3 separate regions of the Homo sapiens genome follow, and all the other regions are linked to region 1. The links come from fine-mapping of genetic effects on gene expression. A gene starts in region 1. Each other region holds a variant in brackets. All regions are shown on one strand. Distances are from middle to middle. Region 1 holds the start of UNC5CL (unc-5 family C-terminal like). Region 2 holds the start of OARD1 (O-acyl-ADP-ribose deacylase 1). Region 3 overlaps LOC101929555 (a long non-coding RNA gene).

The links.
Region 2: its variant is fine-mapped to the expression of UNC5CL in whole blood (TOPMed, PIP above 0.99).
Region 3: its variant is fine-mapped to the expression of UNC5CL in whole blood (INTERVAL, PIP 0.98).

What each region holds. Positions count from the first base shown.
Region 1 is chr6:41,034,681-41,042,860 of GRCh38, forward strand. It overlaps UNC5CL (unc-5 family C-terminal like), which reads right to left and starts at 4,541. Exons shown (of 9, transcript NM_173561.3): 1 at 4,482-4,541; 2 at 10-455. The coding sequence starts at 394. It overlaps TSPO2 (translocator protein 2), which reads left to right and starts at 7,787. Exons shown (of 4, transcript NM_001010873.3): 1 at 7,787-8,098.
Region 2 is chr6:41,066,765-41,074,944 of GRCh38, forward strand. It overlaps OARD1 (O-acyl-ADP-ribose deacylase 1), which reads right to left and starts at 5,592. Exons shown (of 6, transcript NM_001329686.2): 1 at 5,472-5,592; 2 at 4,832-4,911; 3 at 4,368-4,512; 4 at 3,312-3,370; 5 at 2,077-2,189; 6 at 1-673. The coding sequence starts at 4,870. The coding sequence ends at 571. NFYA (nuclear transcription factor Y subunit alpha) reads left to right here and starts at 6,210. Exons shown (of 10, transcript NM_002505.5): 1 at 6,210-6,320. RefSeq lists enhancers at 5,611-5,820, 5,851-5,900 and silencers at 6,281-6,910, 6,941-7,100. The variant G/A (reference allele first, on the strand shown) is at 3,329.
Region 3 is chr6:40,960,192-40,968,371 of GRCh38, forward strand. The region is part of intron 1 of LOC101929555 (a long non-coding RNA gene); the gene reads right to left. Among named protein-coding and RNA genes, the nearest start is that of UNC5CL, 75 kb to the right of the region's middle. The variant G/A (reference allele first, on the strand shown) is at 4,020.

The DNA.
Region 1 (8,180 bases):
AGCTGTTACCTGGTGGGATGAGCAAGGAGATGCCTGTATCCTGGAGCATCAGGCAACCGCCGCGGTGATCCACCTCTCGAGCCGAAAACACCAACAGTTTGTGCATCAACTGGCGGACCATGGTCTGGCCTTGAGTGGGTGTGTGTAGCTCCTGGTAGAAGGCAACCATCTCTGGCAGTGTGGCTGGCAGGTGCTGCCTTGAGACCTCATTTTCTAGTTGGGGGGTAGGCTGGGACACTGGTTCCTCTTGACCATTCAGTGTCCAGCAGGCCCCCAGCAGCCTTCTAGGGCAGTGCCATCGAAGGCATTGGGCCAGAAGGAGGACACTTGCCACTGGGACCCCCACCAGCAGTAGGAACTGGGAGGGTTGGAATGAACTCTCCTGGGGGCACATTCGCCTGGTTACTCAATGCCGCTGGCTCTCCTTCACCCCTGTGCCAGCCAAAGCCAAAGGCCTGGTGGGGAAGAAGGGGTCAGTGTCAGGGTAAGCCCTTTTAAGTTGTGGAGGTCAAGGCTTGGCTTACACATAGCTGCAAGTTGTCTTCATTCCAGCGCACACTGCACACTTTAGTCACACCAATTCTTTTAACCTGTCTCTCTTACTCGAGAACCTACCCTGGCTCCCCGTGACCTAATACATCAAGGTAAACTGTTCTGAAGCAGAGTGAGCTTGGGTTTACAGTTAGAGAACATGAGTTCAAATGTCACCTTGGTCACTGTGGCTGGGTAAACTTATCATATTGATGTAAGGCAGGAGAGCCCCAAAATTGGGGCTTAGTTTGGGAGGGTTTGTGGCTTCACCTAGGCAAGAATTCAAGGGTGAGCCAGTGGTGTCAGACAGCAACTTTCACTAAAGTGGCAGAGTATAGCAGCAGCAGAGGTATGCTCCTTACAGAGCAGAGCTAACCCTAGGCAGTGTGCCCAGGGTAGCAGCTCTGGGGCATTTCTGCCATCATATTTATGTCCACTTTTAATTACATGCAGTAAGGGGTGGGTTATTCAGAAATTTCTAGAAAAAGGAGTGGTAGCTTCGGGTCACTGCCATGGAAAGGGGCAGTAACTTCCAGGCATCGCCATGGCAGTGGTAAACTGTCATGGCACTGGTGGGCATGTCTTATGGAGAGGTGCTTTTGGTGCCTTTTCCCTGTTTCAGCCAGTTTTCTATCTGGCCTGGAATCAAATCCCACCTCCTGCCTCAATACTGCTTAATGTACCTCAGTTTCCTCATCTGTCCAAATATCTACCTTGATCTACAAGTGCTGATACAAAAAAATCTATAAGTGGAAAAAGCAAGTCGCAGAGAGATAAAATATTCTGAGCTCATTAATGTGAAAAACAAAACTGCATATAAATAGATACATATTTATGGGTGCATATATGGAAATGTAAAGGTATAGAGAAAGGTCTGGAGCAGTGGTGTACAATAAAAATGTAATGTGAACTACACATGTAATTTTAAATTTCCTGATGGCCACATTAAAAAGAACAGGAGAAATTAATACATTTTATTTAACCCAATATATTCAAAATGTTATTTCAACAGGTAATCGATATAAAATTATGAGATATTTTTACTTTCTTCCTTCATACCCAGTCTTTGAAATCCATGTGTAATTTATATGAACAGAACAGCTCACTTGGGACTGGCTGTATTTCAAGTGCCCAGTAGCCACGTGTACTAATGAATCCGGTCTTAGACTGTGCAGGTCTGGAAGGACACACCCCCAAACTATTCCCATGAGTCACAACAAATTGAGAAGGTGGAAGGTGTGAATAAAAACTTTGTATTTTTTTAAATCCTTTTCTCTGTACTTTGAATTTTTCACATCAAGCATGTAGTTTGTATTAACTTTGTAATTCTTTTCTGAAGCTATTAAAAGTGGGGAAAAAGTGCCTCTTTGTGTAATGGTGAGGATGGCATAAGGTCATGTGAAAAGTATTTGTAGATGAGAAAGCACTGTCCAAATGTATGTGTTTCTTTATGCCCCTCCTTCTGCCAGAAAGGCCTGAAGGTAGCTCACAGGGATAGGCAACATACAACAAGAACAACAAAAGCTAAAAGTGGAAGCAAAAAAAAAAAAAAATGAAGAAGACAAAACACAAAGATGCAGCCCTACAGTGAAGCTGGAATGAGGCAGGGCAAAAGCATACACTCACCTCCTGCTCACCTGGCTACCCAGCCAGGCCACAGGCTGAGACTTCCCAGTAGCTCTTCCTGAGGCCCTCCAGAACCCACCTCCGCCTCCTCCTACTTCCCCTCTTCCAGCCCCTACAATTTCCAACACGCCTGCCCTGTAGCCTGCCCAGGCTCCCCACACCTGCTTAATTCTAGCCTCTGGCTTTTGCTCATGCTGTTTTCTGTTTCTCCACTCACTTGCTCTCCCCACTTGTTTCCTCTCCCTACGTGGATCCTCCCATTCAATAGTGCCTCCCGCTGGTGCACCGGCCTTTGACAGCCTCCAGCTCGCGAAATCTCTCTCCACAGCCATCCCACCATACTGAGTCACTCTTGATTATGTGCTGTCATGTGTGATTTTCCCACTCAAATGAACATTTTCTAAGCACCGGCTGTGTATCGGACACTGTGGGAAGTTCAATCCTGCCAAAGATGACGTCTTATTCCGCTCTCAAGGAGCTTCTGCAGGAATGGAATTCATTGGCTTGGTAGCTGAGTTCTGTGAGGCACAACGTCCTCCTTCAGAGCCCTGGGAGGCCCCTCTGGTTGACTCACTAGAGGCTGCACTGGAAGAGCTTCCAGTATCCAGTCCTCCCCACGCCCTTCACTTGCACTACCCACCTGGAACTGAGGCTTGGCCCACCTTCTTCCTTCCAACCTCAGGACCCATGAAAACTGAAGCCCCTTCCTAGTGCCTCTTAGACCAGGGCAGAACCTCCACTGTATCCTCAGGATTGAAGACTGGGGCAGTACCTGTTTCTCCCATGTCCTCACTGAAAGTGTGAATAAGAAGCGGGGGTTGGCATTGTTCTCTTTGCCTAAAGAGCCAACCCAGCAGACAATGCACCAGCCTTTTTCAACCAGGCATCCTGGAGGGCACACAGGTGAATCAGTGAATTGGCAGTGTCCCAAAGCTGATGGGAAGGGGGTTGGAGCAGCAAGCTACCGTTGATGTCCCATCATTTCTTTTGGTTCTTTCACATTAGTAATAATTATAATTCCAACTGTAATAACAATAGCTAACATTCGCAGAGCTTTACTCAATGCCACTGTGTTAAAGCACTCTCCATGGCTTGTCTCATCTCATCCTCACAGCAGCCTTAGGAGCGAGGTGTTATTTTTATCTCCATTTCACAGATAAGGAATCCGAGCTTTCTCCCCACAGTGAAGATGGATAGGGAATTACTAAACAACTGAAGACAGGCAGGAAGGAGGAGCAAAGACGAACAAGGACTTCCAGAGATACCCCCTTTCTCTCTCCACCCCTTCTTTTCCCCAAGTATCTTCCTTTCCTTCTCTAGAAGAAATAAAGTTGGAAGAGAAAGAAGCAAAAATGAAGTAAAGACAAATAGAAGGACCTAAATTTACATCCTCAGTTATGTGGTAATACCCACCCCACTACACCACACCCCCACCTACCAAGGTACCAGTGGCAGGGGATGGAATTGCTAAAGGGATGAAAGGAGGGGCCCCAGCTCGCTTACACAGCAGTAACCTTCCTGGGGCCACCAAAGACCAGAGTCCAGATCCCCAGTGAGGTGCACCTCACTGGGTGGTGCAGTAGAGTCCCCTGGCTCAACCTCCGACCCTGGAGAAGTTGGCATGCACCACTCCCAAAGCCCCACTGGGCCTCTCCCAGGGTGACTGCTCTTCCAGGCTGCCCTGGCCCTCACTGCATCCTCCCTCTGGCTCCAGAATGGGGAAAGGTCCGGAGTCTTGCTGAATGGCAACTATAGCACTGCAGCCATTCGAGTGTGACTTGGGGCATCCCAACCCCATGCCTGGACTCCTCATTACCCACTCCTCCAGTCTGTCTTGCTCCAGACCCCAGATCACCCTGGGTAGCGGGTCCCCGAAACGAGAGTCCTTTAGAATGCTGCCATCACCTGTCCCTAGGCAGTTGCATCCTCCAGCACAAAGATCCAAACTCCTGCTGCAAAGTTCTGCTCATACCCTTTAAGAAAACTCTCAACCTTTCCTCCACCTCACTGGTTCTCCCTGTGCCTCCCCAACACCTGATAGATGTCCAGTTACTGCAGAACATAACAAGTACTGGGATGGATGGTCCAAACCCAAGTCATGAATGGCATTTGTTAGTATAGTAGACATTTCCGCAGGACACAGAATCATCCCAGTGGTCCTCATACCCATTGGCCAAGTCCCATTTTCCTCCCCTCCTCCAGCAGAGGGTCCCTACACTCCAGCAGGCAGGCTAAGCTGGCCTGGCTCCTCCCCCGAAGCTCCAGGTAACCCCATCACAATGCCCATCCCCTCTCCAGCTGCCCCAAGGGGGTGCTCAACTTACCGTCTAGGAGCTCTTAGAGGCTGCTGGCTGGTCCAGTTCCTTCTCCGAGAAACAAGGGTCAGCCAGATTCAGTCGGCAGGCCAGCAGACAAGTGGAGGTGGGCGGGGAATCCAGGCAGGAGTGGCCTGGCATTTCCTGGCAGAGCCCTGCCTCCCAGCTGTCTAAAGAGGGGTGAGGGAGAGTGTCCCTGTCTATTGGCAAAGTCCAGCCCAGGTAAGGGATTAGCTGAGGATCCCAGAAGTCAGTGAACTTTCCAGTCTAGGTCTGGAAGGAAGGAGGGAGGCAGGGAGACAACCTGGGTGTAGGTGCTGCACCTTGAAACCCCTCCTTACAGTGCCCTCTGCTGGTGAGTGGCTGTCCCCAGCCAGAGGCTATTATTAAAATAGCAGATAGGAGGAGGAGGGAACCTTCATCTGAGTTTCTTAAACTATAATGTGCACAACAGTCACCTGGGAGATCTTGTTAAAATGCAGGCTCTGATTCTGTAGGTCTAGTATGGGGCCTGAGATTCTGCAGCTCAAAGAAGCTCCCAGCTGATGCCAATGCAACCGGTCCAAGGAGCTTAGAGAGCATCTAGTTCCACCCGCTCCCCACACAGAGAAGACAGTGGAGCCACTGAGACGGTTAATGACTCACCAGTTGCTGGTGGACCTGAGATGTACCCATATTTTTCCTTACACAAGGTGCTTTCTACTTCCCCCACCCAAAGTTGGCAGAGACACTGCCGGTTGGGAGACAACTGAACTTTGGGGCCATTTGCCATTCTGAGTTCTTAAAACTCTGCCTAGGAGCGGTGGCACCACAAGAATGAAAACTCCTTGTGGAACTTTTCCCATGTTTTCGGCTGTCTCCTCAGCTCCTGGTACAGCCTGATAGATAGAAGGTGTTCAATAAACATGTCTTGAATGAATGAGTGAAGCAGTTGAGAGGGAAAAGGATGCATTTTGGCTCCAACTGGCCAACACTGAGCCCAGGTGAGCCACACGTTGGGTATGTAATATTGGGCAAGCTACTTAACTCCTCTGAACCTCAATTCCCTTGTCTGTCAAATGCAGTTAAGAATATCTACCTTGTGTGAGATAATAATTGTCATTATTGAGCTAATAAATGTCAAATGCCCACCACAGAATGGGTGGTCAATAGATGGTAACCGTTGTCACCAGGGTCTGGCCTCCTGCAGTTGAGGAGGCATGGTGAACGCCCCCCCAGGCCCCTAGTTATCATCTCCCATAGAAAATAAGTAACTTCCTCTGCTTTTGTCTCAGTTAATAATTCTCTAGCCTCTTGTCTCTGACTGCAATGCCCTCCCCTCTGCTTCCTTCCCTGGTGGAGGTGAGAGGGTGGAATAAACCTCCCAGGGGAGCCCAGTACCCCAAAGTGCAGAGATGGTAGAGAGCGGGCAACCTGGGAAGCAGACCTCATGCCTAAAGACAAGCCAGGAAGGGGTGCTCAGAACTTTGATAGGGAATGAAAGGAGTGGGGTAGGGGTGTTTGTCTTTGTTGAACAAAGCTCTGTCTGAGTCACACAGGAGGCTGGACTTTGCCAACAGACAGGGACACTCTCCCCTACCCCTCTTTAGGGCGGCTGGGAGGCAGGACTTTCTGCCAGGAAGCGCCAGGTCACTCCTCCTTGACTCCCCACCCACCTCCACTTGTCAGCTGCCTTCTCCTCTGAGTCATAAAGTCCTAGGGGTTTGTGAAAGATCTGTCAAGCTAGGGTTCTAAGCCAGGAAGGTCATGCCAACCAGGAGGCTATAACCAGGGGCTGTGTTCATGGATTATGAACTCACTTCCCAAGCTAGTTCTTGCCACTCTTGGGGACAATCCCAATTATAAGGAGGCTCTGAAGAAATGTGAAGGCTCCTACCACTCACTCCCATGGCCACAGAGCTGGTTCATGGGATGCAAAGACCACAGGCATCAACAGCATTATAACTGGGGGCTGAGCTGTCACAGGAGGGCCAGTGTCAAACCCTCACCACAAGCCCTCAAACATTCCATCAAGGGGTAGCCTCCAGAGGCCAGGCACCAAGGAGGGTCTGGCAGACCAGAGGGGCTCCTCCTGAGAGGAACTCTTTGGGGCCATGAAACAGCAACTTGGACTTCCCAGCCAGTGTCACCACCCTTCTCATCTGAGAAAGGCAGATCAGCAGGGAGCACCACTCCACCCTCCTCCCAGCCCCACCCTCCTCCCAGCCCCACCCTCCTCTGCCTTCCACACATCATATGTCATCAGGCCCCCCGCCTGGGAGGTGTGCTGCCAGAGGTAAGGGGAGCACAGGCCTAGGAACCAGGAGGCACTGGGAGAGGCAGGTGTCAGGAGAAAAGAGGATGGGGGCAGGGAGGGGCAGGGAGGGGGCCTCCACCACTGGACAGAAATGTAGAAAAACAGGAAGGCAGAAGATGAGCAAACGGACAGTCAGGAGCACAGAAAGACAAGTAGAAATATGCACAGGTGGGCATGCTGCTCAGCTCTGTCCCAGAACCTCCAGGACCAGTGTCCCTGACCCTTGACAGAAAAGGATGGATTAGGGCCAGGCACAGTGGCTCATGCCTGTAATCCCAGCACTTTGGGAGGCCAAGGCGGGTGGATCACCTGAGGTCAGGAGTTCGAGACCAGCCTGACCAACATGGCAAAACCCCATCTCTACTAAAAATACAAAATTAGCCGGGCATGGTGGCGCACGCCTGTAATCCCAGCTACTAGGGAGGCTGAGACAGGAGAATCACTTGAACTAGGGAGGCAGAGGTTGCAGTGAGCCGAGATTGCACCACTGCACTCCAGCCTGGACAACAAGAGTGAAACTCTGTATGAAAAGAAAAAAAAAAAAAGGATGGATTAGATAGTCAGTCCAGAATACTGAAAATAATCAGATTGTTTTCTCTCCTTCAAATCTGGTTAATCATGGGGGGAGGCTGAAATATCATGAACAAATGAGAAGAATGATATTTGTGGGGCCTTGGTGGGGCCTTGGCTGGAGGAGGGTCTGTACATTGTCCCACATGCAAATGACATGCAAAGCAACATGCCACCTTGGCAGCTTTTTAATCAAAGACCAGGCAGTTGTTTCCTTGAAAAGTCAGGCCACAAGAAACCTGGATGCTTGTGCTTACATCCTGACACTCTGGGAATGGAAAGATGGAGCAGGAAGCTCATACCCCATGGCTCCAGGGGTAGAAGAGAGCTAAAAGTTCAGAAAAAGGAATCCACGGTGTCAACAGGCCAAGTTTGAATTTGGGCAGGAGATCAGCCTGGGTGGGCCCCATGAGTGTGCCAGTCTGATATGGTGAGATAAGCCTGGGACAGATGTGCTGCCGCATTCGTGACTAGAAAAGAGTCCCCAGGAATTTCTGGCTCCTGCCTTCAGATTGTGAACTTTCCAGGTTGGTAGATCAGCTTAGGTAGAACAGTTCTCGGTGAGGGCCAGCTACATACCTGGCTAAGCGCTGCCCACTGCAGAAAAGCTCATCACCCGGGACCTGATCTCCAGGACTCAGAAGCACTTGGAGGAAGGCCTATTCACTTAGAAGCAGTTACCAGTGCTGGGCAGTGTCCTCCAAGTGCCAGAGGAGTGCTGTGGAGAAAAGAAGTCCATGGAAGCCAGGAGATGGGCAAGGTGTGGCCTGGGGTTGGAGAGAGCTCAGAGGTACAGGACTGGAGCTGGGCCAGGGAGAGAGGAAGGACCTCCGTGAGTAGAC
Region 2 (8,180 bases), 32 kb after region 1:
CAAATAGACATAAGCACAGAACCTCACTAACTCCCCAAATTTTTATTTTTCCATTTTTATCACCACAAATTTCTTGGTAACAATGTAGAATTTAATTTTGTAATTAAAACAAAAACTCTCCCCTAGGAGGAATCTGATGACATAAGGATAACACCAAGTTATGTGCACAAACGACAAAAAATGCCAAACTAACTGGAATGATCATCCTTCCTGAAATTTCTCTTAAAAAGCAGAGAAGTAGAACCAATGCTGCCACCTAGTGGCCAGCCAAACAAATCAGGTAGCATACTGGAGAAAAAGGTCATAGTCCCGACAATCTGGTTTCCCTGCCTATTATCAAGCCACCTAACTCCTTACTTTTCCACAAAAAAACACAACCACATATCTTAAGCAAGCCCTCCTCCACAGTCATAATCCAAATACTTGAATACAGCAACCAAAGTCTGTCTTGTTAAACACACTACTTCTCATGAAACTTTCCTCTGCCTATTTTAAGGTAGGTTTGCCCGGTCCTATGGCCCAGTAGAGATGACACAGGAGAACACGGAAACATCCAAAATGTTCACTGGTTCAGAGTGTGTACACAGTAATTTTGATGTCTGTTGCCTCAAATACCTCCTCGATCATCGCAGATACATTTTCCCATTGCAGACGATCAAGACCACATCCAATCCTGAAAAAGACAAAATATCTCCATTGATGGTAACGAAAGTATCTAGGAAACTGCTCCTCTCTTTTAAGCTATATCCACTCAAAGCATAAAAACAAATAATCTAGTCTGACACCCTTATGGGCAACCATGGTAGGAGTTTGGAAGTCAATTCTTGTTGTGAGTCACCGAAGACCATTCCTAGACAGCTCTAACATCCAAAAACTATCACTTCTGTTTGCCTAATAAGATACTACTTTCCAACTATTTCATGCTACATTTAGAAATGTGTAACTGTCATGACATTAGAGACTCATTATCCCTCTATGACTACTGACTAAAATTGGCTGTGGATGGATGGTGAAAGGTTGGTATTTTAAAAATGCACTTATGGTAACAGAATGTTAACGAAAGTAAGGAGAAGAGGAATGAGGTACAGGATCTGCAAAAAAGAAAGTCAAGAGGGAATGCTGGGAAATGGTAAGATAGTTGCAATCCAGGAGTAAGGTCTTTGCAACACCCTGGTAAGAATAAACTCAGTCCATAAAACTCTACTACTTGGCACCTTCCAAGATGTTACTCTAGTGATCCTCAACACGCCTAGGGAAAAAAGAGACCTAAAATTGGTAATTTCATGTCATAATGTGATAATTAAGTCCATAAGGAATTGTGATTAAAAAAAAAGTTTCTGATATGTATGTACACCATAAATATATCAAAGACCAGTGTAAAATAAGGGACATTTGAGGCCATATGCAAAGTAATGTGGGGCGCAAGATAAAACTGCATGTATGCTCAGCATTGACTCAAAACTACCAGGGTGACAGGAAGAAAAGAGGTGAGGCCCATTTCCTGAAAAGAAAGCAAAGGGACTACTGAACCCTCAATGTCATTCCCTAAATTCCCAATAGCTAAAGTCTAAGAAGTTACATCAGGGACAGATCCTCTGGCTATTACCCATACTGACCAAAACAAGTGTGCAGTATAAAAGGGAATGATAATTTACAACTTTCTTGACGCAAAGTAATAGGTTTGGGAGATGGGAAGTGGTCCAAGAGGAAAACCACCATTGCTCAGTCTTGATTCTTTAGCTTACATTGCTTTAGGAATAAAGGCCAAGCTTCAAGCAGAGGGTGCTGAGAATTCAACAAATGTAGCTGAATGACAATGGTCGCTCTCTGCTAAGCAGGCTGAGGCAGATGTATATTTCAAGGTAATTGTCCTGATTCATTCAACTCAAGCTAGAAAATGGCTGTGCCTTAGTCTAAAGCCAGACAACTGGTTCACTGGTGGTTTTACAAAATTTTGACTTTTGTCCACCTTTAAATCTATATTTTGGGTTAAGCTTTTAAGTTGTTTGTCTTTGGGTAAGATAGTAAACCCCACCAATCAATTAAATCTCCATTTAGGACCATGGATTTCCTTGCCTGGGCATGGAGAGGTCAGTGACTCCATTCTTCAGACAATGAGACTTCATTGCCTCTAAACTCTTCTGTAAGTTTTCATAAGTTGGCTTGTGCGAAGCCCTTTTCTTTGTAATCTGAACACAAAGGATTCAAACTTTCATCATCCCAAAATGATAGCCAAAGAAAAGTCATCACATTCCCCCAACATCCCAATAATTAAAAGAGTAAGCACATTTTTATAGAATTAGTCTAGAGCAAGGATGACAAATGTCATATTGCCCTTTCCACACTGTTATGGGAGACCTTCAAGAAAATCCACTAAATAGAGGCTGAGAAACCCAGACTCTGCCACGTAGCAATCTTTCCTTTTCCTAGGAAACCCATGAGATTAGCAGATGATGCCTATTGTCAATATTTTTAAGCAAGGTAGGTGAAGTCTCTGTGCCACTTCCAAGAGATAAGCTGCATATCTCTAACAGGGAAGAAAGCATACCACCTGAAAATTCCCTGCTAAAAGCCTCTACTTATTTAGAAACTGTGCTTGCTTGCTTTTTGTCTCTCTACATAAAACAACAGAAAAAACTGGTAGGGTCCCAAAGTAAAACCACTGGAAGCCACATAAGCTTTAAGGACAGAATTCAAAGGGGCTAGGACATCTCCCCACTCAGTTTGTCATCCAGATCAGGCTTGTAGTGGGTTAGCTGTAAGCTACCCACCACCACCACTAAGGAAGCCACACCCTTTCAGGGACCAAATGCCATCCTGGACTGTTGAAGAACCCCACATTCAGGCAGTAGTTAGGAGAGGAGCTAAGTATTATTTGGGACTGCACTTATTATTTTTTGTTTTTATTCACCCCCTTGCTATCAGTGTGCTATTTGACATGGAATAAGAGAAAAGCTCCTTTGGGAAATCTGTCTCTTGAGACATTATTGTTTTTATCTCACTCTGCCTAGGAAATATAGTATGGCAGGCATTCCTAACTTTTGCAAGTCTTAGAACAGGCCTATGGTACATGATACACGACTTTCCCACAGAGCTGGGATGCAGCCTCACATTTCTTTCTAACCCAGTGCTCCAAGTAGCCGCCATCACTGGACTGGAGTTGTCATAAGATAGGAAGCTTTTTGACATTCTTAGTTGTCTAGAATAGAACATCATGATCAACACAAATGCAGTGCAGCCCATCTGTTCACAAATCCTTAAAATGTATTAAGAACTGGCCCTGAAAAAAAAAGGAATTGGCCCCATCTTACCAAGTAATATATATATC[G/A]CCCATCTCTCTTCAGAACAGCCACTTCTCCAGATTTCTTTTCTAAGAAAAAGTTATTTAATAGTAGAAATGAAAAAGAAAACCAAACACTGATCTCTAAAGATTTTAAAATGTTTACAGATCTGAGTTTACCTCAGAACTAGAATTTTCAACACTGAAGAAGGGAATAGGGAAGACCTATTGTCTCCCACAAACACTTTGCTTTTTATCAGCATTCCCAAATACTATATTCCTTAACTTAACAGCTTTCTTACAGTCATGTTTCCTCACAACCCATCTTTTGTACCACTACTACTTTTAAATATATCCTCATTTGTCCACAAACTTTCTCTATTGCCTTGAAATTGTTTTATAGTGTGTAGTTTTTTACTTGCCAAATGTGTATTTACTCAATAATTATCTTTTTACATACAAAGAGCTGTATAAGGCATTATGAGGAATACAGATATATAAAAAAGGAATTAATTATTACAGAGTTTTCAATCCAGAGAAGATATCATCATTCCAAATAACTATAATACAAAGCAGTAAGAATTGCTTTTGTCTAAGGCTAAGAATCACTGTGGACACTGATGCTGTTAAGCCTGGAATGTGGTCGGAGAAACTGTTGCAGAAGCTTTACATAGGATTCTAGTGCACATTTCTGGTTTAAAGTGGCCCGTAGAAAGTGATGGGAGGGGTCTGTAAGGAAGAAGAGGTTTCTAAATTCCTCTTTGAAGAGAAAGCAGAATATTGGTAAGTAAAGGATCTTGAATGCCAACCTATAGACTAAGCATCTCAGAGTTATTTCAAGTTTCAGAGAAGTACAGTAATATCGTCAAGAAAGTTTCATGATACAAGAGGAAGAGATTAAAAACCTTCACAGGAGTTGGGTTTTGATATGGTAAACGTCTAAACTAGAGGCCATTCTTGGGGAGGAAAATCTTAAAAACATTTGGTTCTTAGGAATCCCCTCTTTACACGCATATTTTATTAAAGTGTAACAGATTAAAAGGTGCTCTAGCCAGGGCAAACCAGGTAAGTGGTTTCCAAAACTCACGTTGATTTAAAAGTTCTTGCACCCCTCCAAATTTCTTCTTAAAGAGGACAGCTATCCCAGCGCCCATGCGACAATCCTCACTGATACAGTGGGCTAAAGAGTCTGTTTTCGGGCATGCAAAAAGGTCTCCTTTCACATAAGTGATCTAAAAAATGTGCAAAGGAAAAGACAATGTTTTATTAGATACAGTAAAATACTAAGCTATTTTTCTGTATTTTGTGTCCCCCACGACTACCTCTCCCGGCACCCCTTCCTCCAATCTGATTTAAAGCCAAACCAATTACAGCATGTGTAAAAGGAAAGTAATGGATGATCCCTGCCTAGAATTTTGAGCCTTTTTAAAGTAAATCAGCTAGAGAGAAAAAAAGATAATGCAATCATTAATTTAATTAAAAAGTGTTTATGCTTTTGACCTCCATTATTACGAATTTCAGTTCACCAATAAGTCAATAGTTGTTACGCACTCTGCTTCCTTCTGGATCTTCATTAAGGCTGCTGGCCATGATACTGAGTCGCTATTTCCAGAATTTAAGTGTTTCTTCAGCTATGAGAAGGGAAAAGGAAGTAAAAATGCTTAGGCAGCCTTAGTATATAATATTCTGATTGCCCTGTACAACCACTTAATAGGCTTTTTTCCCCAACGTTTATCGATGAATGTGAGTTTGTTCGGCCCCTGGGACGTAATACAAAACCCTTCTGGGGCAAAGAGGAAGAACGCTTAGGTTCGGAGGCTGTCTCGACCCGCTCTCATTTCGTGCTTTCCTGGAGCGCCCCGCTCCGTCAGCGGAAGCAAAGCCCATCCCTAAGACACGCCTCCTCCTTTCTCCAGGGCCACTCCGGAGCAAGGCCGATTTAGGACGGTCTCCTTTTCTCTGCACGACGCAAAAGTATTTCCCCAGTGGGTCTGGCTTAGAAGAAAACAGAAGGGACTTGGCCACAGTCCCGTTAAGCCGCAACCACAGAGTGTACAGGGTACTGGCGTGCTGAGCCCCAGGCGTGGGGAAAGGAAGGCGGCCTCTCAAGGAACGTTCACCCCCCACTTTTTTGGGGGGTGCGTGGGAGAAGGAAAGAGTCTATTGAAGCCTCCCATTCTCTGTCTCCTACCCTAGGGCGGGTCAGCGAGGACGCAGTCTGTCCTGGGGTCCTATGGGAGGGTGCGGGGAGGCTCGCTCAAAGCCCCAACGTACCCAAGTCACCCTTCACCTGGAAAGGAGTCGGTTGTTTGGAGGTCCCCGCCCCGCGGGGAAGGGCTCCGGATCCGACCCTGGTAGGTGGGGAGCAGCGGACCAGCCCAAACGCGGAGCCAATCCCGCCAAAGCCCTTAATTGCACGCATCTAAGATGGCCGCCCCCGCCCGGTAGCGGGGCGGAAACGAGCCCCTCTAGCTTGCTAGCCGAGCCCACACTCTTTGGCGAAGGCCGCCGAACTTCCGGCAGTAAATTCCGTGGTTTCCCGCCGCCGCCCGCGCATGCGTAACGAAACTGCCCCACGAGTCGGGAAAAGTGGCGCTTGCGCATTAGCCGCAGGGGTGTGTCCTAGTGGCCACTTGGAAAGGGGTGGGCAGCTGGCAAAGGGGCTAGTTAGCGCCTGCGTAGTACTAAGCTCAAGGCAGCGTTTTGAGTTGAAGGGTCTGGCGCGTCTGGAAAGCGCCTGCGTATTCCTTTCACTGGGGGTGGTGTCAAAGCGGGAAGGTGGGCGTGGCTTCAGGGAACGCCTGCGCGTTGCTCCTCCGAAGGGGTGGGGCGATCCCTGAACTGGAGTTAGTGGGCGTGGCCTCAGAGGCGCCTGCGCGGAGGCGGTTGGAGGGAGGCCCGATTCCCCTTTGTTCGGGTTCGCCATTTTGCTAGGCAGCGGCAGTGGCGGCGGCAGCGGCGGCTGGAGCCTCTGATTGGGTTTCGGAGTCCGGTACTGGAGCCAATCAGCGCGGGCAGCGAACCGGGGGAGCGAGGCACGGTGAGTGTGAGGAGCCAATATCCAGCGGCCCAGAGCCGGCCCCAGCGCCCCGATTGGCGGGTCTCGCTGACCACTCAGGAGAGGCCCAGGCGCCCGTCGAGCCCGGGGAGTCGAGCTGAGCCTAGCCGAGCCGGGCGGCCAGCGGCCCCGGCCCGGGGCCTGCGAGCGCCTCGGGGCACTCCCGGCCGAGGCCTGCAGGGGCCGCCCCGCGCGGGGATGGCGCCTCGGGGAGCAGGCACCTCGGGGCTCCGACCCTCGCAGGGTGCCAGGGCCAGTTGGGAATGCGTCCCTGTTCCCCGACTCAGGCCCAGGTTCTCAGGCCCCAGGCCTGGGGCCACGAATGGCCCTACACTAGGGGACACATGCGCGCCCTGGGCCTCGGCGATTTCCTCCTGGTCGTTCTGGCCGCAAACTTAAACCTGCCCTTGCACTCTCCACTCTCCGGCCCTTGGGACAGGAAGCCTCCCCGGGGCCCGCGCCCCCCGCTCCCCGCTCCCAGCGAGCCGGGTCTGTCTTATCTGCAGCCCCTCTAGGTCGGGAGGGAGGCCTGGGGAGGGTGCGCGCCGCGGCCGCGGGGTCCCGTGTGCGGCTGGCAACGGGGCTGGCCCGCCCACGCCTCGGAGCCCTATGGGCCCGCCCCCGCTGTCTCCCTGGTGGGGAGAGGGGGCCGTTAGTTCGCCCACTCCCCCTGCTCCGCCGCGCCCCTCCTCCCAGCCCGCTCCGCCCGGGTCTCCGGCCCGGCGCCGTTACCACCCCTTTTGGCTCGTCATTTCCTCTCTTCCCCGCCCCGTTCGCAGTGGCAGGACCGCACACCTCCGTCTTGGAGCCCAACCAAGCGGTCTCCGTTTCTTGTCCGGGCTGTAAGACCAGTCCATTCGGTGCCTGGAACCTCACTCTTAGAAGATTGATACCCTTGCGCATTCTTTCCGGAGGCTGCACAACTTGCTGTTCATATTACTAATCTTATCCACTGCTCATTTTGTGAAATCTCCCTCCCTTGGGAATATAGTACAGTTTTGGGGGTTTTTTTTCCCTTTGTTTTTGCCTTCGCCTTTCTATGTTACTTTGTGTCAGGCTTGACCCAGTCCACTCATCTCTTGGTTTATGTTTTTCTGATACACTTTCAAGTCCTGTGTTAACGTTTTCTCAGCAGATGTTTAGAAACTAACAGTGTTGTGGGGTTTTCCTTAGGGTGAGAGGTTGCTGTTGGCAACCAATTATCCAGCAGTTAGTATATGCCAGGTATAATCCGTGTGTTAGGGAGGGAGTACGTAGAGGTCAATAAGAACTGTGCCTACCTGATGGAAATTGACAGGTGAACAGGTAGTTAATACCTAACGGTTAGTGCTATAAAGGGGCCAAGTTCAGTTGCTGTGAAGTATCCATGCGTGAGCTAGCCTCCGTGAAAGGCTTATCACCACCGCACTTTTGACTGGCCTTGAAGAATGATGGTAATTCTTCCACAGGAAAGATGGAAGAGCTTGCTCGAAGAGAAGAAAAGCATGTGCAGAGGAATCAAATTACACTGTTGGAGGCAGGAAGATGGGATAGGGAAGTGGGCAGTAGTTGTGATAGTTTAGGGGGGAAAGCCCAGTTGGTAAAATACTTGTATATCTTGCTAAGGAATATTTTGGAAACAGTTATTATTTTGTATGGAGGTTCAAGTAGAAGGGATCTAGAGCTATATTTTTTCCTAAGATTGAAAAAACGAGTTTCTGACTTGTTTATGGGTTCTGCCCCGTGATAGTGGCTGAGTTCTTTGGGGATGAAGAGGAGACTTGTCCTAGGACTCTGAAAATTATTTTTACTCATGTGAATCATCTAGTGCATTCCCTGGCACATAAAGGTCTTAAGTATCTG
Region 3 (8,180 bases), 74 kb before region 1:
GCCTGAGAGATTCAGAGCTAAATCTAGCTGACCAACTGTTTTTATAAATAACATTGCATTGAAATACACCCACATTCATTTATTTATTGACTGATTTGCAAAAAACAAGGGCAGCAGTGAGTAGATGCAAGAGATCATAGGCCTGCAAAGCATAAAACATCAACTTTCTGACCCTTTATAGATAAAACTTGTTGACCCCTGACCTACAGTATGCACCTAAGGTGTGTCCTATGTGTCCTAAGATGGCTCCGACACTTGCTATGTGACCCCAGACAAGTTGCTTTCCTGAATCTCCATTTCCTCATCTGTAAAATGTGCTTGTGGGAATTTGGTGAGGAAGTGTGTGTATGTGTAAGTGCCTGACCCAAGGCAGGTGTTTGATAAGGGTTTGCAGCTATCATTGCCAATAGTATGATGAAAATTATGACTGATTCCTATGATATCACTGAAGACAGGGCAGAGACCTTTATGGCCACTTTATGGGCAATGAAACCCTGGTGCAGAGAGAGGATATGGTGAGAGGCAGAGCCCAGGTCTTCCCAGTCCAAGTCCTGCACTCTGCTGCCTCCTTTCCCCCGCCTTCCAATCCATAGCTGCCCTAGTCCTCATTTATGTTTGCCAGCGTGCGGAGCAGCCCTTCTGTGTTTGTGAGTTTTCGGCATCTGTAAGTACCCACAGCCGCACAGAGCTCGCCAGCACAGACATTTGTCAAAGATGACATGCCAGTCATCCATGCCACCGGAGACAGTGACAGATGCGCTCTCCAGCCCCACCATCCAGGCAGTGGAGGATAGATGGGGCCTTGGCACCGGCGCCCGCTCTTGGCCTGGCATGTGCAGGGAGCTGCAGACCAGGCAAGAGACAAATTGCAGCCTGGTCAGTGGGCAGGAGGCTCAGTGTGCATGCAGGCAGATGTGGCTGCAGCCTGCCCCTGAACCAGACACCTGCCTGCCCTCCCCAGTGTCCTAGACCTGCCCAAATCTGGTGTTTGCTTAAGATTTGTATGTGGTCACTGATGAGGAGGTGAGTGCTCACGGGCTTTGGGTTGTTTCCAATAATAATAGTGACAATGGCTGATGCTAACATATGCTGCTCTGCTGTTCTAAGTCCTTAGCATACATCGAGCTCTTTAATCCTTAGCCATCCGGTGGTGGAGGTACAGGAAACTGAGCCTAGAGAGGTTGGAGGCCTCTTCCAAGTTCACACATTAAGTGGCAGAGGCAGGAATCAAATCCAGACACTCTGGCTCCAGAGTTCAATGCCCCTCAGGACTACTGTCTAATATTTGAGAGCCTGGAGTGGAGGAAAAATCGTGACTAGGCAAAGGATTCAGGTAGGCAGGGCTCACCACTAACCTGAGTGGACAGGAACAGGTTGCCCTGCCTCAATTTTTCCACCAGAAAAAATGAGCAGTGGCTGCTATTGCAAGGCCCTGCAAGGTCCCAGACCAGCTCCAGGGCAGGCCTCTCTGTTCTTCTGGGACCCTTGGGCACTAGGTCCTCTGCCGACACACATTCACTCCCTCCGCCTAATAATCCCAACCCAGATCCCCTGGAGTATCATCTCGTAGTTCATTAAACCATCACCTCTGTGTCCCTGAGGCAAGCTTGCAGTCTGTTGAGATTTTGTAGGGATGTTTATGGCTAGTGGCAGCAAAGGGAACAGACCACATAAAACAAAAAGAGACAGTATGAGCTCTTAAAAAGTTTCCAAAGTCTGGCATAAAAGCTCCCACAGGTGTTTCATTCATACAAATGACCAGCTTCCCTCCGCTCTGGATGAAGGGTTTGGAAAGACCAAAGTCTGGTTCAGTCCAGCCAGTCTCCTATTGTGGGACCTTCCTTGCGAAAGTACCCTTCTTTCTCTGAGCCTTGGTTTCCTTGTCTGTAAAATGGGTATAATGATAGTACCTATCTCATAAAATTATTGTGAGGATTAAAACACAAAAAACACTTAGAACAGGGCCCGACACAAAGCGAATGCTCAACAAATGCCAACTGTTCTCATTCTCTGGTTTTTAGTTTCCTCAGTGGGAAAATGAGGAGGTGAGTTTTGTGCCAGGTATGGGCTTCTGGCTCGAACATTCTGTGACTTCATGATGTTCCTAGGGTGCTTCCTTGTCTCCTCCCACTTGCCTGAGTCTTTCTTCTTTGTTTCTGTGAGCCCCAGCCAATTAGTTTACTCACAAGTGTAGGGTAGAGAGAACTACACAAACAGGAAGTGTTACCACTCATACTCACAGTGGTGAATCATTCCAACCTTCCATCAAGTGGATCCACCTCCATTGGTCGACACAGCTGGGGAATCTGAGCTACTGTGGCCAGAACTCTGTTGACCACATCCTGCAATGACAGACCTCAGAATCCTTCCTGAACCTTCCATGGGAAGGAGTCTGTGACAGCCCACCTGTGTAGACTGGGCCTCATCAGCCTGAATTTGCTGAAATAAGTAATTCCAGTTTCCCTGAATTCATGCAGAGGGCACCCACGCTGGGAAGGAGTTTCTCTGGCTTTTCAAGCTCCATAAACACTTGAAAAGTCATTTTATTTTTCAATCTGTGGGCAGGATGCCACCAAACGAGGAAGCCTCATTAAACAGACCTTGAAGGCTATTTCTTTGTTGTTTTTTTTGTGGGAGTGGGATGAGGTTTGGTGTTGGCTTTTTTTTCCCCCACTGATGCTTTTTGGATAAACACATAAATCAGCATCATCTATATTCATTAGATATCGTGCCTTGTTCAGTACAAAATTACCCCTGTTTTGCATGACTTTCCCCCCTTGTGATTAATATAAATGACTTAAGTTAATTATGTTTCTCTTCATGGAAAAATGTATTTGTCAAAGTGCTGAAACATCAATAAAAAATAAACACTGTCATTTGAAGAAGGGCTCATTTGCAAATGAGTAGCTGGGGTGTGGGGAAAGGAATGGACTCACCCGTCTGGAGGTGTCATTCTGATTGAGTAGGCACACTTCATATTTACTAACAATGACAAAAGCATTTTTCTTAGTTAAGCACTCACAGGTCCTGATGAGGTAGACTGATGTCATCATTATTAACAATAATGACACCTCAGGCGTAGAGAAAACAATTTTCCTTACTAGAGAAAACTAACGCTGGGTATTTTACCATCCAGACCTCCAAAACTAGGCCCAGCATGGGGACTTTGCAGGAATAGACCAAGAGGCAAATACAGATGATTGGAGTGGGAGGGAAGAGAAGTGAAGAAAAGCAAACCATGGAGCTGGTGTGGCATCTCAGAGCAACATGGAAGCTTAGGGATGAGACAGCACAAACACCTCCCTGGGCCAATGACAAGACTAAGAACCAGAGAGGGGACTTGCCCCTTGGGTAAACAGCATATTAGTGGCAGAGCCCAGAGAGAACCCAGGACTCTTGACTCCTAGACCCCCACCCTTTCCCTGCACTCTGCTGCCTCCCTTGCCACCAGGGATCAAAGGCTCCCCCTCACTTGAGTAAGTGGTCAATGGCACCAGCAAGGTGCAGGGGCTCAGACTGCTGGACAGTCAGGGCCCCAGGGAAATCTACAGGTTACTGACTTTTTTCATGGTATCTGGAATAGCCTTTCCCCACACTGACTGTCTTAGTTTGGGTTTCCTGAAGGCAGACCCTGAGACAAGATCGTAGGTGCTGGTGGTTTATGTAAGAGGTGAGCCTAAGACACCAAGTGAGGTGGAGAAGTGAGACAGGGAAGGGAGAAAAGCCAATACAGGGCACATGTATGAGGGGGTTACTGCTTTGGACACTTGGACTCACTCCCCCCAGGAGTGACTGCAGAGAATATGCCTCTGAGTTGTCCCGGTGCTGGACAGGGAAGCAGAAATATTTATTTACTGACCTCTGGGGACTTTAATTTCCAACCCCTCTGGGTCACCCTGTACCTAAGCTGAGCAAACTCCCATAGTACCAGAAAAACCCAGAGATCCAAAACCCTGAGCAGGTGAGTGGGAAGCGCTAGTGGGCACAGTCACTGTCTATGGCAGATGCACGTGAACCTG[G/A]AGGTGGTATGGGGGGATGTGGGTGGGGCAGGCATGTTATCTACTACATCACCCTTATCTAAGTGCTCCCAGCCTTCCAAGAAATCCCCCCTCCAAGTAAACATGATCATCTTGTCTTCTGATGGTCAGAAACCATTCATCTGGCCACCTTATTTTACTTATCTTCTTAAATATTATTTCTGTCACCCTAAATATACTGTAAAGCATTCAAGGGCAAAATTAAGGCCATTATCATTCTGTCATTCAACAAATACTTACTGAGCACTTACTCTGTGCTGGACTATCTTTAAGGTGCTAGGAATATAGCATCAAAGATAAAGAAAATCCTTGTCTTCAAGGAACTTGCATCTTAAAAGTAGAGCTAGACAATAAACACATAAATAAATGCTATAATTTCAAGTGGTGATAAGTGGCTCAAAGAAAAAGAAAGCAGGGTAAAGGGGATAGCATAATGGAAGTGCAGTACTCCTGGGGACATTTGAGCAAAAGCCTGAATGAAATACCGGAGTAAGCCATGTAAGAATCTGGTGGAATGGAATTCAATCAAAGAGAATGTCAATGCAAAGACCCTAGGGAATAACAGGAAGGCTGGTGTGACACTCAGCGGAGTGAAAAAGAAGGTGGTAGGAACTGAAGAAGGGGACAACCAGATCGTCTAGGACCTTACCTTTAAACAGTGCCTGGCACAAAAGAAAGGTACTCCAAGCTGACTGGATGGATAGATGGGTGGATATAACAGATGGAAGGATGGAAATAATGACAGACTAGTGGATGAAGAAAGAAGAAAACAAAGCAGGTTCTATAGGTAGAGTGTGGTGCCAATGGTGCATTCAAAGCCAGACTTTGCAGAAATAGCAAATATTGAACCCAAAGTACCCAATGAGTAGTTATTAGACCAAGGAAGCAGTTGAAGGAGAAATGTTCCTCTCTGGGCTTCAGCCAATGAGAATCCTAGAAACCTGAGTGTCCTTATCTTTCTTTACATTCCCTGCAGAGGCCCAGCTTCTCCCCTGTGGTGAGTATCCAATAACATTAAATGGTATTACAGTGGATTAATTAAACTTTGGTGGCTGGAAGCTAGTGAATCATTCCCTCCACCACATATTACCATGTTTACTCATCAGGGCTCCATTTTTAATAGCGGTCTTTTAATTAAAGCATGTCACCACGGTCCATTAGGGAAGAATTTGGAGGATGAGATGTGCATGTGGGTGCAAGCATCATTTAATTCAGCAGTTCTTTACTGAGTGCCTACTATGTGCCTGGCAAGTCTTGAGGTACTATGAGAAAATAAGGTGCAAGTGAAGGGCTTCAAGGAACTTACGCGATCAAACAAAGTGAATTCACACTCACGATCAACTGAGGAACATTGGCATATTAATCATTGCTTGCCAACTAACCAGAATTCTTTATTAGTAACTTCTCCCACCTAGTTTAATTTGGAAGAACCAGGCCAATCATAAGAAAAATTCTGGGGCTTTTCGTTTTCAGCAAAATATCCAGGGTATACTGTGGCCTAGACCCTGATGCAGTCATATATCTTTGGGAAAGCCTCCTAAAACTTCTGAGCCTCAATCAGTCTCTTCAAGAATAAAAGCAGAGGTTGTTCTTATCCAGAAATTCTCTAGATTCCAGCTGTAACATTTTCTCATCTGCGACCCTCCAAATCTCCAGGCCCAGACCATGAGGATGGGTTTTCCAGAATGGTGGAAATTTCATCTAAAGTCACTCTAAGATTTTTACCCACCAGAGAAAGATCCTTTTCATTACATTCATGACATTTTGTTTTCTGAATTTTCAAAGAGGACCAAGAAGACCTGTTTGGAAGTAGGAGTAGTTACAATGCATGCACTATGTGTGCACTTAGATGAGGAGGAACAAACCACATACTGCCAGAAAAGCAGGCTCTATTCATGGGGTGACTGGGTAAAAGGCATTGGAACTGGACCCTAAAGACTAGGTAATAGTTTGAGAGTAGGAGAAATGGGGGGAAAGAGCCAATTTTCAGCCTGATTCTAGCCATGTTCCAAGTATGGGTCCCCACTTTGCAACTGCATGACAAGCTCCCCCAGGAGGAGGGACCAGGTCTCTTTTTCTTTTGTCTGAGATTCTTCCTTCCAGCTCTTCACTCCTTAGGCGAGCTCAGCCAGTCTCATAGGTTAGGGCCCACCTGTGTGATGATGACTCCCACATTTCCATCTCCAGCTCAGCACCTCTCTGCGGAGCTCTCTATTCAGTCAGCTACCTGCTTGGCACAGCACTTAGAGGCTTCAAGACATCACAAACAACGTGGACAAAATGAGGCTCCTATTTCTGTGTCCAGTCTGTTGATCCTCATTCTTCAGGTCTCAATGTAGGAGTCACTTCCCCAGAATGTAAATATATATCTTACCCCAGAATGTGTGTGTGTGTGTGTGTGTGTGTGTGTGTGTATATATATATATATATACACACACATATATGAATATATTTGTTTATATATATTTATATATACATATATATGAATATTTATTTATTTATATATGAATATTTATTTATTTATTTATTTATGAATATATATTTATTTATTTATATATATATTATATATATGAAGGAGGGGTCAGGACCTCTCCGATCCCTCTTCTATAAACACCCTAGGTTTTCCTTCACAAATGTTGTCACATTGTCAGGAAATCTTTGTGTTGTGATATCTTTTCTGTGAGGTATTTGATGAATGGTTGCCTGTCTTACTGGATTTTTAAGTCCCATTGGGCATAGATCAGCCCCCATTTACTCACCACTGTCTCCTGAGTACCTGGGACTGTGCCTAGAACATAATAGGCCCCCAGTAAATATTTGTTAAGGGAAGGCATGGGTTCCCCAACCCCAGCCAGTGTGCAAGATCCATTTCCGCATACCACTGGCACACAACATTCAGGCACTGGGAGCCGCACAGTGACGGAAGCTTGAACATTTTCTTCGTGTCAAGTTCTCAGTAAAGCTATTTTCTCACATTGTCTCATGTAATTCTTAAACCACCCTGGAAGGAATAGGTTTTATTGCTGTTTCCATTATATAGGTGGGGAAACATGGCTCAGAGGAAAGTGGCATGTCCAAGATCACACATCCTGCAGGGGACAGACAGACCAAACCCATGTTTTCACCAGCCTCTCATCTCACAAACAACACTAGGTTTGTTAATACCTGGGAACTCTGTGTAAGCGAGGTCCCTGGCTTGGTGTCAGAAGACCTGGGTTTGAGTCTTGACAATGTCCTTTGTAAGTAGCTTAAGGTAGCTCCTCAGTTCCCTGTGAGACACTGCACACAACATCCTTTAAACTGCCTTAAGAAAAACAGCCCTACAAATGAAGACTCCATTGCCACTCCCTTTGAAGCAGCTGCTCTCAGAGTCCTCTGCACTGCCTCATCTGAATTGAACTATCTCCCCACCTTCTCGCAGAATCAAAAACTAGAGGCTGCAGGCTGAAGAGGGCACCATTATTTTGTTTAACTCACAGAGTATTTAAAACTTTTTTTTAAGTTGTTGGGTAAATTCTAACAGGTTTTCTTCAGGGTCCAGATTTTTACCTTCTCTTGAAAAATTAGAAGCTCCTGCAACATCAGTCCCACAGCTCTGCACATCATTGACTGGCATCAATTGGTTGAGCCAAGAGGTAGCCATGCTCTCTCCCCAGTGTGCCACTATCCCTACCTGAGGCTGGGAATCAGGTGTCACTTACCTTGACATCTGTTCCCTTATTTTTCCAACAATGGGAATACATTTTTCTGCATTCATGTCGCTAACAGAACTAGGAAAAGCAAGCCTGGACCACAAGGATAGTGCAGTGAGAGATAATGTGAGTATAATTCTTGATGCAAGTGAAGAATAATCATGAGTTCAATATGGTTAAGTGCATGTGTTTCAAAACAACACAACCCAAACAAGATTCAGCAAAAATACTATCCCCCAGCTCTATTTTGTTATGTTGCCTCTATGACCCCTGTAAGATTTTGAATTTCAGATGCTTGCTTCAGTTAAATAAAGAGTTTTCTAGATGAAGGCATGCAGTAGGTCTCTAACACTGAGCCACTGCCTTGTCCCTCTCAATTAACCTTTGTCTTTAAGTCCCTGTCTAATGCCTACTAGTAGCTAGGTCCCTGAGATTGTAAAGACCCCAAGGC